Homo sapiens: one gene and its partners. The protein of the gene in region 2 purifies or fractionates together with the protein of the main gene of each other region. This does not show direct contact. Each region holds a gene or a part of one and is shown on either strand. Other genes may lie near its edges.

The links.
Region 1: the proteins of ZPBP2 (region 2) and ZNF146 purify together in Homo sapiens (affinity purification with mass spectrometry; 3 studies listed by BioGRID and IntAct, with this or other methods). This does not show direct contact.
Region 3: the proteins of ZPBP2 (region 2) and PPP1R1A purify together in Homo sapiens (affinity purification with mass spectrometry; 3 studies listed by BioGRID and IntAct, with this or other methods). This does not show direct contact.

Annotation. Positions count from the first base shown.
Region 1 is NC_000019.10:36,213,505-36,217,255, reverse strand, and holds the start of ZNF146 (zinc finger protein OZF), read right to left. Parts: upstream 2,151-3,751; 5' UTR 2,060-2,150; intron 1-2,059.
Region 2 is NC_000017.11:39,871,164-39,874,914, reverse strand, and holds part of ZPBP2 (zona pellucida-binding protein 2 isoform 2 precursor), read right to left. Parts: intron 3,452-3,751; coding exon 3,290-3,451; intron 2,646-3,289; coding exon 2,427-2,645; intron 1,872-2,426; coding exon 1,789-1,871; coding exon of another isoform or gene 1,775-1,788; intron 1-1,774.
Region 3 is NC_000012.12:54,587,074-54,590,824, forward strand, and holds the start of PPP1R1A (protein phosphatase 1 regulatory subunit 1A), read right to left. Parts: upstream 1,587-3,751; 5' UTR 1,416-1,586; coding exon 1,332-1,415; intron 1-1,331. UniProt on the Homo sapiens protein: Inhibitor of protein-phosphatase 1. This protein may be important in hormonal control of glycogen metabolism. Hormones that elevate intracellular cAMP increase I-1 activity in many tissues.

The DNA of each region.
Region 1 (3,751 bases), on a different chromosome or scaffold from region 2:
CCCTGTCTCTACTAAAAATACAAAAAAAGTAGCCGGGTGTGGTGGCAGGCAACTAATCCCAGCTACTCGGGAGGCTGAGCCAAGAGAATCGCTTGAACCTGGGGGGCAGAGGTTGCAGGGAGCAGAGATTGGGCCACTGCACTCTAGACTGGGCAAGAGAGAGAGACTCCATCTCAAAAAAAAAAAAAAAAAAAAAAAAAGACAGGGACTGGCTGTCCACCAAGCTGGAATGCTGTCGCCAGGATCTCTGCTCACTGCAGCCTTGACCTCCTAGGCTCAAGTGATCCTCCCACCTCAGCCTCCCAAGCAGCTAGGACTACGGGAGATCTCACTATGTCGCCCAAGCTGGTCTCTAACTCCTGGACTCTAGCCATCCTCCTGCCTTGGCTCACAGGTGTGAGCCACCAAGCCCGGCCTGAGGCTTTATATTTAAAATGTGTTGGGTCCCCATCTCCCCACACCTCAACGCCTTTTCTTTCTCAGTCTGTACTGGCTCTTGCAGCTTGTCTCTTTCCATAGTAAGTCTAGGATCAGTTCCCCTAGTTCCAAAAGAGAAAAGCCTGTCCATACTTTTATTAGGATCACATTATTACTATTATTGAGACGGAATCTCGCTCTTGTCCAGGCTGGAGTGCAGTGGCGAGATCTGGGCTCACTGCAACCTCCGCCTCCCAGGTTCAAGCGATTTTCCTGCCTCAGCCTCCGCGGTAGCTCAGATTACAGGCGCCCGCCACCACGCCCGGCTAATTTTTGTATTTTTTTATTTTATTTTTTTTTAGTAGAGACAGGGTTTCACCATGTTGGCCAGGCTCCTCTCGAACTCCTGATCTCAGGTAATCCACCCATCTCGGCCTCCCAAAGTGCTAGGATTACAGGCATGAGCCACCGCACCCGACCAAGATCACAGTAAATTAATACATTCACTTAAGTTTGCGCACACTTCTTAATGTCACATGGTATATTTATTTGTTCACATTTGTTATGCCCCTTAGTAGTATTTTAAAGTTCTTTCCTAATAGTTCTGAACCTTTAAGTTTCTTCCACAATACTTTATCTTTTTACTGCTATTGTAAATATTAGTTTTCTTCAACTATGTATTCTAACTGATATTTGTAAATTAGAAGGCTATTTATTTATAGATATTAACTTGGTACCCAATTACTTTATTTAACTTTTTGTAATTTAAAACTATGTCAATGACGACAGCGGGGGCGGGGTGATTTCCTTAGAAAACGCATCTTTGGAGACGTCAGTAGCATTCTCCATTACTTCACAAAATCCATACAACCTGAGAACGCCTCGACTCATTAAGGAATTAAGACACCTAGGATTTAGTCCAGACTCATAGATAAACACTGCAACAATTAAGCTTTCTTCAAAAAATGAGGATAACTGTGCCTAACCTAAAACCGTTGACTCCCTCATCCTGGGCGCCGTTATATGGGATTGCTTCTCAAAGCGTACAATGCTGTTTAGTCTAGGGCTTTGCTTAACAGCCCTATTTAAGTACCCCAAAGATGGGGATTTGAATAGTCTGAAGTAGGCACCCCGAAACTAAAGTTCCTTCGAAACACTCTCGTTTAATTAAAAAAAAAAGTCACGGTGATTTGCATGCCACTCCAATTAAAAAGAAATGCTTTTATATAAAAACTCGTTTTAAAATTATTCACCACTTAGCTTTTCCACCCCTTCAATTTTCAAGTAAAAAAGACGCTCCAGGAAGATGGCACCGTTATAATTATCAGCACTTTCGACAAGGGAAGTGCAGCTCAAACGTTATACCTCAATGCTGGTCTCCTACATCTCCCTCTTAGGCACAATCACACACAATCCCGCACCCAGTTTCACATTCACTCAACAATCCCAAACATCAGGTCAAACTTTGAGGACAAACTCGGTCACACTCGCTCAAACCCGCCTCAGAGGCCCCCATCTCCGCCCCGCACGTAGGCCAGAAGCTCTTACACCCACTCCCTGCCCTCGCGCCGCGCCCCTAAAGATCAGGAATCCTCCCCTTTAACCTCCCCGGTCCGACCGACCCGAGACGCCCAGATCCCACCTCCTACTTTCGCGCCACGTGGACCCAGGGGCCGTACTGACCCGCGGACAAAGACCAAAATGTCCACTCGGTGCGCTGCGCTTGCGCACTCGGAGAGCGAGGAAGCACTCCCAGAAGTCTCCGCGACGCGGCCCGCCTCGGTCACCGCGGCCAGGCCCAGGCTGGTACTGAATTACCTTCTATTACCAGCAACGTCGCTTCTCAGGCCTTGGACTACATTTCCCTTGAGGCTTTACTGGTCGACTCTCTGTCTCCTCCCCTCCCCCCGCGAACTTGGCCGCCTCCTTCTGTGACGATGGAGCTCTTGAGGTAAGTAGTCCTTTAGCGTCAGATGACTTCAAGCTTGCTGGAAGGTCTGGAGTGGCGACGCCCTCTCCGAAGACTCGTGGGCGCAAAAATGTCAAAACGAGCCAGGCCCCGACTCAGAGATAAGAGAACGCCATTCTGTCCGTGGCCGATCTAGCTCTGGACTACAATTCCCAGAGCCCACAGCGGCCTGACGTTACGTCGTTCTTGACGTCGTGGCGAGCTAGTTAGCTCCGCAAGGACCCGGACGCGACCAGGGGAGGCAGAAGGTGAGGGGTCTGGGAGTCCTGGGCGGGGCCGGGGCGTGTCCGGAGCCTCGAATCTGTGCGCGCAGGCGGGAGCTGGCTGCGGATGCGCCGTTCTGAATGTGTCTTTGTGGCTGTGTGGCTGGGTGTGGGTGTCTGCAACTGTGCACGTGTAACCGCCTGTCTCCAGGGTGTCTGGTGGTTTTTGTGTAACCATGTGTGATAGAGAGTATCGGGGTGCAGGGTCCTTGTGACCGGGGGTGATACTGCGTGTGTCCCCGTTGTATATGTGGCCTGTTCGCCCTGTTCCTGGGGTGTGAGTACAGTTGTGACTGTGTGACCACTGCGGGTGTGCGGTTGTGATTCATGTCTCCAAGGTGTGTGCGTGGTTTTGGTTGTGTGACACTGTGGCCGTGTGCAATTGCCTGTGCCTGTGACTGTGTGGTGACGCCGCTTGTGTATTCCTGTATCCCTTGGTGTGTGTGTTTGTGTGTATGTGTGTGGTGCTGTGTATGCGGGAGTGGGGTGCCACTGCTTGTGTGGGTTGCTTGTGTGAGTGTGACTGTGTGTATGTCCACAGTGAAAGTTCAGTTGTGACTGGGTGCCGTAAAGTACCAGTGATGGCGTGTGTCCCCTGAGTGGGTGTGTGACTGTGACTATATGAGGCATTTGTGGGTGTTGGTGTGTGGGGCTTGTGACTATACGGGAGTAACTGTATCACAGTGGAGAGTAGATTGTGTGACTGGGTGTGTCTTAGCGGGTGTGTGATTGTGACTGGAAAGATATTGTGACTGGAAAGGTATAGAGGTGTCTGTGATTGTGTCCTGTGTCTCAGGAGTGGATGTAGGGCCGGGTGTGGTGGCTCACATCAGCCCTTTGGGAGGCCGAGGTGGGAGGATCACTTGAGCCCAGGAGTTCGAGACCAGCCTGGCCTGTACAAAAAAAAAAAAAAAAAATTAATGGCTGGCACGGTGGCTCACACCTGTAATCCCAGCACTTTGGGAGGCCGAGGCGGGTGGATCACCTGAGGTCAGGAGTTCTAGACCAGCCTGGCCAACACGATAAAACCCTGTCTCTACTAAAAATACAAAAATTAGCTGGGCGTGGTGGCAGGTGCCTGTAATCCCAGCTGCTCAGGGGG
Region 2 (3,751 bases):
GCTAGGTGTGGTGGCATGTGCCTGTAGTCTCAGCTACTCAGGAGGCTGAGGCAGGAGAATTGCTTGAACCTCGGAGGCGGAGGTTGCAGTGAGCCGAGATCGTGCCACTGCACTCCAGCCTGGCGACAGAGCGAGACCCCGTCTCAGAAAAAATAAATAAATAAAAATTAAAATTAAGATTAGGCTGGGCGTGGTGGCTCACGCCTGTGATCCCAGCACTTTGGGAGGCAGAGGTGGGCGGATCACTTGAGGCCACGAGTTCGAGACTAGCCTGGCCAACATGGTGAAACCTCGTCTCTAATAAAAAATACAAAACTTAGCCAGGGGTAGTGGCAGGCACCTGTAATCCCAGCTACTCGGGAAGCTGAGGCACAAGAATCACTTGAATCCAGAGGCAGAGGTTGCAGTGAGCTGAGATTGCACAGCAGCCTGGGTGACAGAATGAGACTCCATCTCAAAAACAAAACAAAATAAAATGAAAAGAAAAAATAAGATTAAAAAACTTGTTTTGAATTATTTGCAATGTCTATCCCATATGTAGATAATTGGGCGTTCATTATATCTAATTTCCATGATCATCAAAGAAAAAGAGCCAAGCAAAATGGAAAGCAAGACTTTTCTTGGCTGGGCGTGGTGGCTCACACCTGTGATCCCAGCACTTTGGGAGGCAGATATGTGCAGATGACTTGAGGTCAGGAGTTTGAGACCAACCTAGCCAACATGGTGAAACCCCGTCTCTGATAAAAACACAAAAAATTAGCCGGGTGTGGGTGTGGTGGTGTGCACCTTTAGTCCCAGTTACTTGGGAGGCTGAGGCAGGAGAATTGCTTGAACCTGGGAGGTGGAGGTTGCAGTGAGCTGAGATGGCCACCACTGCACTCCAGCCTGGGCAACAGAGCAAGACTCCGTCTCAAAAAAAAAAAAAAAAAAAAAGACTTTTCTTTAATCAGCATTATAAACCGATGATGTAAATTTTGGGTTTTTGAGCACAGAATTTAATAATAACTAATTTTAACTAAGTGCTTCTCATAAGCCATGCACAATAACAATTAAGGACATGAGCTCAGGAACTAGACCAGAGAGTGAAGGGATTTTTAAGACTATGTCCTTTGCCTCTGAGGATGGTAGAGGGGAGAGCAACTAGTATGACCAATATAGATATAATTTTGGAAGCACCATTGGCTTAACGTAGGGTGACATGTTTGTGAAGTTGTTCTTTAAGCCACTATTTAATCATCATTTGGGGAACAAAGACCAGGGATCTATCCTTCTGTCATAGATAAAATACATAATACTAACCTTGGGAACTATCTAATATTACAGATGTGCTACTCCAAAATAACACATCTTGATACTCCAGCTCTCTTTTGAGAAAGAAAAAAAAATCACATCTTGAAATAACTAAGAATCTCATAATCTCAGTTTAAAAAACTGAAACCAAAAATCAATAATACTTAAAAAATCAATATTATTAATACTTTATATTCGTTTTTTAAAAAATAATTTTTCCTCCTTAGAAATGATTTTATTATTGATAAATATTCACAAGATGGAGAAATAGGTTTTTAAAGAAACGTTTCAATATAACGAAGTATTTACAAAAATGTTTTAAATAGCTTTATTGATTTTCAAATACTTCCTCCTTGGCTGAGGGAGGAAGATCACTTGAGCCCAGGAGTTTGAGGCTGCAGTGAGCTATGGTCGCACCACTGCACTCCAGCCTGGGTGACACCCTGTCTCTAAAAAAAGAAAAAGACAAATACTTCTTCCTTACCATGAAATTCTCACCTGGAGGATATTATGATTAGTGGTATCTTCACAGTCAACAGATCCATTGCAAGCACCTTTCCACCCCGGCGCAAAAGGATTAACTGAAGAGAAAAAAAATGATAGACTCACAAAGGGATTCTGAAAAGTTCCAAACATTTCAATAAAGGTCCAAGTGCTGAATTCCATGTGCATGCAGGCACATGTTTAGTCCAGCTATCTAATCCTAGTAATAAAACAAGGTGCACAATTTGAATAATTTATACTTGATGGTTTCACTGCATCTGGGGGCTAATGTAAGTAACTACAAGGCTTTAAAATGAATAGAAATAAATTTGGTTTGATTATTCACTTTTACTAAGTTTTCAAAAATACAATTTAAAATTCTGTAAGAAGTTATAAGTGAAATATTAGCTGCATAAAGGCTGTATTAATAAAATATTGATTTTTAAGAAGCAACAATATGTCATATTTGAAAGTAATTAATTAGTGTGTTAAGTTTTAAAACCATAAACAGGCTAAGGTCAACTACATACTTTAGTGCTTAACAAACATGTAAGACCTATTACTTTTAAAATATCTTATATTAATATGGTAATTTTGTAATCTATTATGGTTCAGGACTAAATTCAAAATTAAAGAAATTTTAAAAATTTTACCTTGAAATGCTATAAATAGCTCATGTATGAGGCCATGTTCTGGAATTTCAACAGAATGGCATTTATATGATGGCTCTATGACATGGCATGACAAATCAGAAATTAGACTATCCAAGATTTTCTTCAGCACTCTAAAGAATACATCATTGTATCTCCCTATACAAGACCTTGTGGTAAAACGTACAGCCATCTGATATGAATAATCAGGTTCCCGATAGGCTTTAAAAAAAAAAGAAAGATGAGAGTGAAAACAATCGTACCTAGCATTAATTTCCTCTACCAAACAATTTTCAAATACTATGTAATACTAAATCCCATCAATCTTGCAGTCAGCATAGAAACATAACGTTTTATCAGTTAGTCCTCACAAAAATACATAAAACTATTAACTTTAATGAAAAATGTTATTTTCATCTGATACATTATCTACTTGGTACAACAAGAGAAATGGCTTCTGTGGGTTGGCTATACAGATAACAGTATCAAGAAAAAGAAAGACTTTTTGGGGAGGGCCTTAATTCACAGAAATTGTCATTGCTGTCAGCACAACCCAGTGAAAGGATCATTAACTTGCTTTTATAGAATTAAAGATCAGTTTTTAAATTACCTGCTAAATTGTGATAAAGTAGATGCGCTTACATATCTAGATAGAGGCAAGTAGGGAGCTGAAAGAAGATTATTTAGGATAAACTATCTTGATGTCAACTTAAGAGTTTGCTTAGTCAAATACATCCCAAAATATTTTGTAAGTCATAATTGGTGACAGTCACCTATTACAGACTCATTTTCATTAAATGAAGAAACCATACACTTAATTACGATCCAAACTAAATGTATAAGTTAAAATGTGCCTAAATTCTTACCAAAGACCATAAAGTCATATCTCTTTTTGACTGTTTTTTCTTCTTGAGTTTCTGCTTTAACAGTCTTATAAGAAAGAGTACATGTGTAAAGTCCAGACAAAGGCTCCAAAAAATCTTTCACCATCAGCTGTCCAGTTTCAGTTATATTTATTCTATTATTTCCTAAACAGAATAGTAAATTACTTATTTAACATATAACATATCAAGCATTATTTAGTACACTTGGAGTTACAAATAGATACAAAAATTTTAAAAATTAATGAACTATCTCAACTTTAAGGATCCCACAAAATCTTAATTCTGTCATATTACTCTGTGGAAGACTACATGAGATAAGTACACTTTTGAAATATATTTTGGTTTTCTTTGTTTCTTGGCATCTAGTTTCAATTGGTTCATCCCAGTAATTCAGAAAAAGAGATTGCACTGCTCTGTACTACTATACAATTTCTTCAGACAAGA
Region 3 (3,751 bases), on a different chromosome or scaffold from region 2:
CTTAGAGCTCTGAGGTGGTGGCTCACCCCAGGCCAGAGAGAGGACGGAGACGCAGGTACCTAACCCTATCTCCACATTGGGAAGCTGAAGTGGTAGGGAGAGTGTGTACCCCTGCCCGCTTCCCTTCACATCAGACCTTATTCTACCAAACAGCTGGAGCAACAAAAATGACAAAAAACACTCTCTCCACCTCATCCCAAGAGGTCACAAAGTTTTTTTCAGGTTGGGGGTGGCCAGCCAGAGCCTGGCAGCTTGTTGAGAGAAACAGAGAACTGACCTTGTGGGAAATTGATATTCTTTAGGAATGGGAATGTCTAGGCAAATGGACAGAGATTACAAAGAGATGGAGCAATAGGCAAATAAGCAAATATTTGGCAAACAAGGAGTAGTAAGGACCACGGGTGGCCACCCTCTCCACACATACGCTCACTCTCACCGAGGCATACACTTGCTCACACACTCTCATACACTGCCCCCTCTGCCAGGCTGCTCTGAGCTAAAAATAGACCAGGCTAGGAGGCTGGGCCAGGGCCCTGGACTCCCACCCCTTGAGCCAAGGCTGTCACAGTGCTTCTCCCTTGCATATTGTTCAGCTTGGACCCCAGCCCCTGGAAAGACTCCACCTCTGGCCTCCCAGTGCTGCTGGCTCAGTCCCACCTGGACTCCCCACTCCAAAGGGCAGGAGTTGGGAATAAGGGCCATGTGCGGAGACTTGAAGAAGGGAGCCTCAGCCTACAACTCGACCACCCCTCTCCCCTCTCCCTGGAGCCCCAGCCCTCTCAGTGGTCCTCAGTCCCTTCCTGTTATCACTTTCGGAGCCCAGCAAGGTGGCCCCCAGTTAGGAGGGGACAGGGAGAGCTGTTTCTCCTCTTCCAACTCCCACCCTTCCAGGCTCCCTCTCCATTACCGACCCCTCCCCAGGCCCCTCCCGCACTGCTGCTGATTCCCTTCAGCGCCACCACCAAGCTCAGAAACTCTAGTGGGGGTTGACTGGGTGGGGGATGCAGGGTTGTTTAAGGAGGGAGGGGTCGTGTCCTCAAGCAGGCCCCCTCCCCCAGGACTGGGGAGGAAGAGAGCGACTCTCGCGGGGCCAGGCATCGAGTGGAGGCGCTCTTCCTTCGGTCAGTCTCAAAGAAGCACAGATTCGAGATGTGGCTCCGACGGTGGGGGAGGGGACAGAAGACCCCCCCCCGCCCCCCGCAAACTGAGCGTTCGTCCTCAAAAGGGCGCACTGCTAAGGGAGGACTAGGCAGGGATCCTGGGTCCCACCAGTCCAGGGGTCCCTCGTCCTTGGCTGGGCGAGTGCCCTGCCGCCCCGCCCTGCTCCGCACCTGCTCCGCCGCCTCGGGGTCAAGGTGCGGCTCCAGCAGCGGGACCGTGAACTGGATCTTTCGGGGGCTGTTGTCTTGCTCCATGGCTGGGGCGGCGGCCGGTGGGCCCGCGCTGCGGCGGGAGGGAAGGCGGCGGGACTCGGGGCTGGGGCGGGCGCGCTCCCTCTCCGCTCCGCTCCGGCCCCGGCCCCAGCCCGGCGCGCTCGGCTCCCGGCTCCCGGCACAGCGCTCCCAGCTCGCGGCTCCGGGGACTCTGCCGCCGCCGATTGGCTCCGCACCCGCCCCTCCCGGCCCCCTCCCCCTCCCCCAGCCCGGAACCTTAACCCCGTCGTGGCTGCACCGGCGGCTGCGGGGGTCACCGCCCCGCGGGCCGCCGAGTCCGGGCGTGGCCCGGGAGCCGTCGTAGTGGACAGCTCAGGCAGATACCTCAGTGTCCTCGGAGTTTTGGGCAGGGCGTTGGGGTGGGGAGTGGCTAGGAAGAACTTCTCCTAGCCGGAGCAGGTTGTTGGGGCTAGGAAAGTAGAGGGGCGCTGCAGGAGAGGAGACTAAACGCGAGAGGAAGATTGCATTTATGATTTTAAAGGGGGTTGTATTATAGAGAAAAGATGGAAAGGGGATTTAGGCATGCAGCAGGAGGGATTAAGGTTAGACTTCGAGAGGGACTTTCCTTTGCAAGGAAAACACTAGGCGGAGGTAAAAACTTGGAGGGAAATACGAAGTCTGCACACCCGTCCTGTGTTCCCTCAGTGCCAGGGAGAGGAAACTGAAGACTTCAGAGGGTCTCCGGAGGGCGCGTTTCTCTCGAAGTGCCTGTGGGAGTGGGTGGAGGGCTTGGGGAGAGAGGACCATCTGGGACTCGACAAAAGGAATAACGATGGTGGGGAGCCAATCCTGCTTGTGAAATCGAGTTCTCTTTCTGCTTGCTAAATTAGGGGATGGTAAAGTAGGTGAAAGGCCTGCAAGGGGAAAATGCCTGGGGAGGGAGAGAGAAACTCCTTTGGTGGGGTGGCTTGTTTACAGATAGGGTTGGTTTCTAATTTCACTATTGGCAGGATACTGAAAACGAGCTGCTGTAACTGAAGGAATGGAGGTTAGACTATGGGAAGAACTGACTAGTTTGGTGGAAGACTAAGATGCCAGTCAATACGAGCCAGTGAGGGAGACAGGATATTCACAGGAGCTGGTGTGCTCGGTCTAAGGACTGGGGATCACTAGATGGGGGAGGGGATGTGCTGGGCACTGGGGAGGGGTAGGGCTGGATGCATCTTTTCGGGAGGAGAAGGTGGAGAGAAGAACTGGGGATGGGGAGGAGGGCACAGGGAGTCCTGGAAGAGGGGAAGGGGTCTGTCTCTTTAGCCTTAAACCAAGCAACTGGCAAGTGCCATACAGATTCATGCCTGGTTCTTGGAGAACCATATGGTCATCTTCTCCTCTAAGGTGTCAGCCTCAACTCTCAGTTGCCTCCTCTCCTGGGCAGCCCTTTCCAGACCTTGATTTCACAAGGCCCCTTCCCCTCTAACCTCACAAAATAACTTGTCCTGCCTTCCCCCCAGCCATATCTTTTTACACATGTCGGGCTCAGTTTTCTCAGGGTAAGGCTGGGGTTATGGGGACCCAGTGGGCCAGCTGGACCTCTGTCTGCAGGTTAACTGGCCCCTGTTTTGCTGTCACCTGGACTCCAGGATTGACTCCTGACACCCAGCCTGCACTTGCAGGGCCCCTTTGCTCTCTGGTGTGGCAGGGCCAGGTGGAAAACAGCTGGTTGGGCTTCCCCGTCTCCATTCCCAACCTTTGCGCAGATCCCCCCACAAGAAGTGACAGTGGAGAAAGAGATCGTGAAGGCCCTGAAGCAGAGAGGATAACGGTTGGGGGCTAGGGAGATACCTGGCTCATTAGGGCCCAGTTGCTTGCTCTGGCCTCCTTCCTACTCACCCCACCTCCTAACCACACATCCACAGAGCAGGATCCCAAATATCCTCTAAATAGGTGACTTGTCTATTCCCCATCCCATTCTACCAGGACCATGGGATGTGAAGCCAGGATTCCCACATCCCTATGTCTGGGGACTCAGGCTTCTCTCATGAGCCTCCATCTCATTTGTAAAACAGACAGAGGATCCCACCTCCTAGGGTTGAGTATCATCTTGGGTAGAGTACCTGGTGCATAGAAGGTCACGGTTAATTGTAGCTGCTGGTTTTATTGTTATTTCCTGGCAGGACGGCAGAGTTGAGGGGTGGTCACCTCTCAGAGTGGTTACCTCTCCACCCCCACCCCAGACATCCAGGCTGCCTAGTCCTCTTTCGTATTCCGTGCTCTCCCTCAAACTTTGGTCTGGTCATGGAAATTCCTCCCCAAGTCTCTCACCCACCCTATGTTGCCTTCTCAAGTCCCGGATTCTCAGAGTCCTTTGTCCTGAAAGC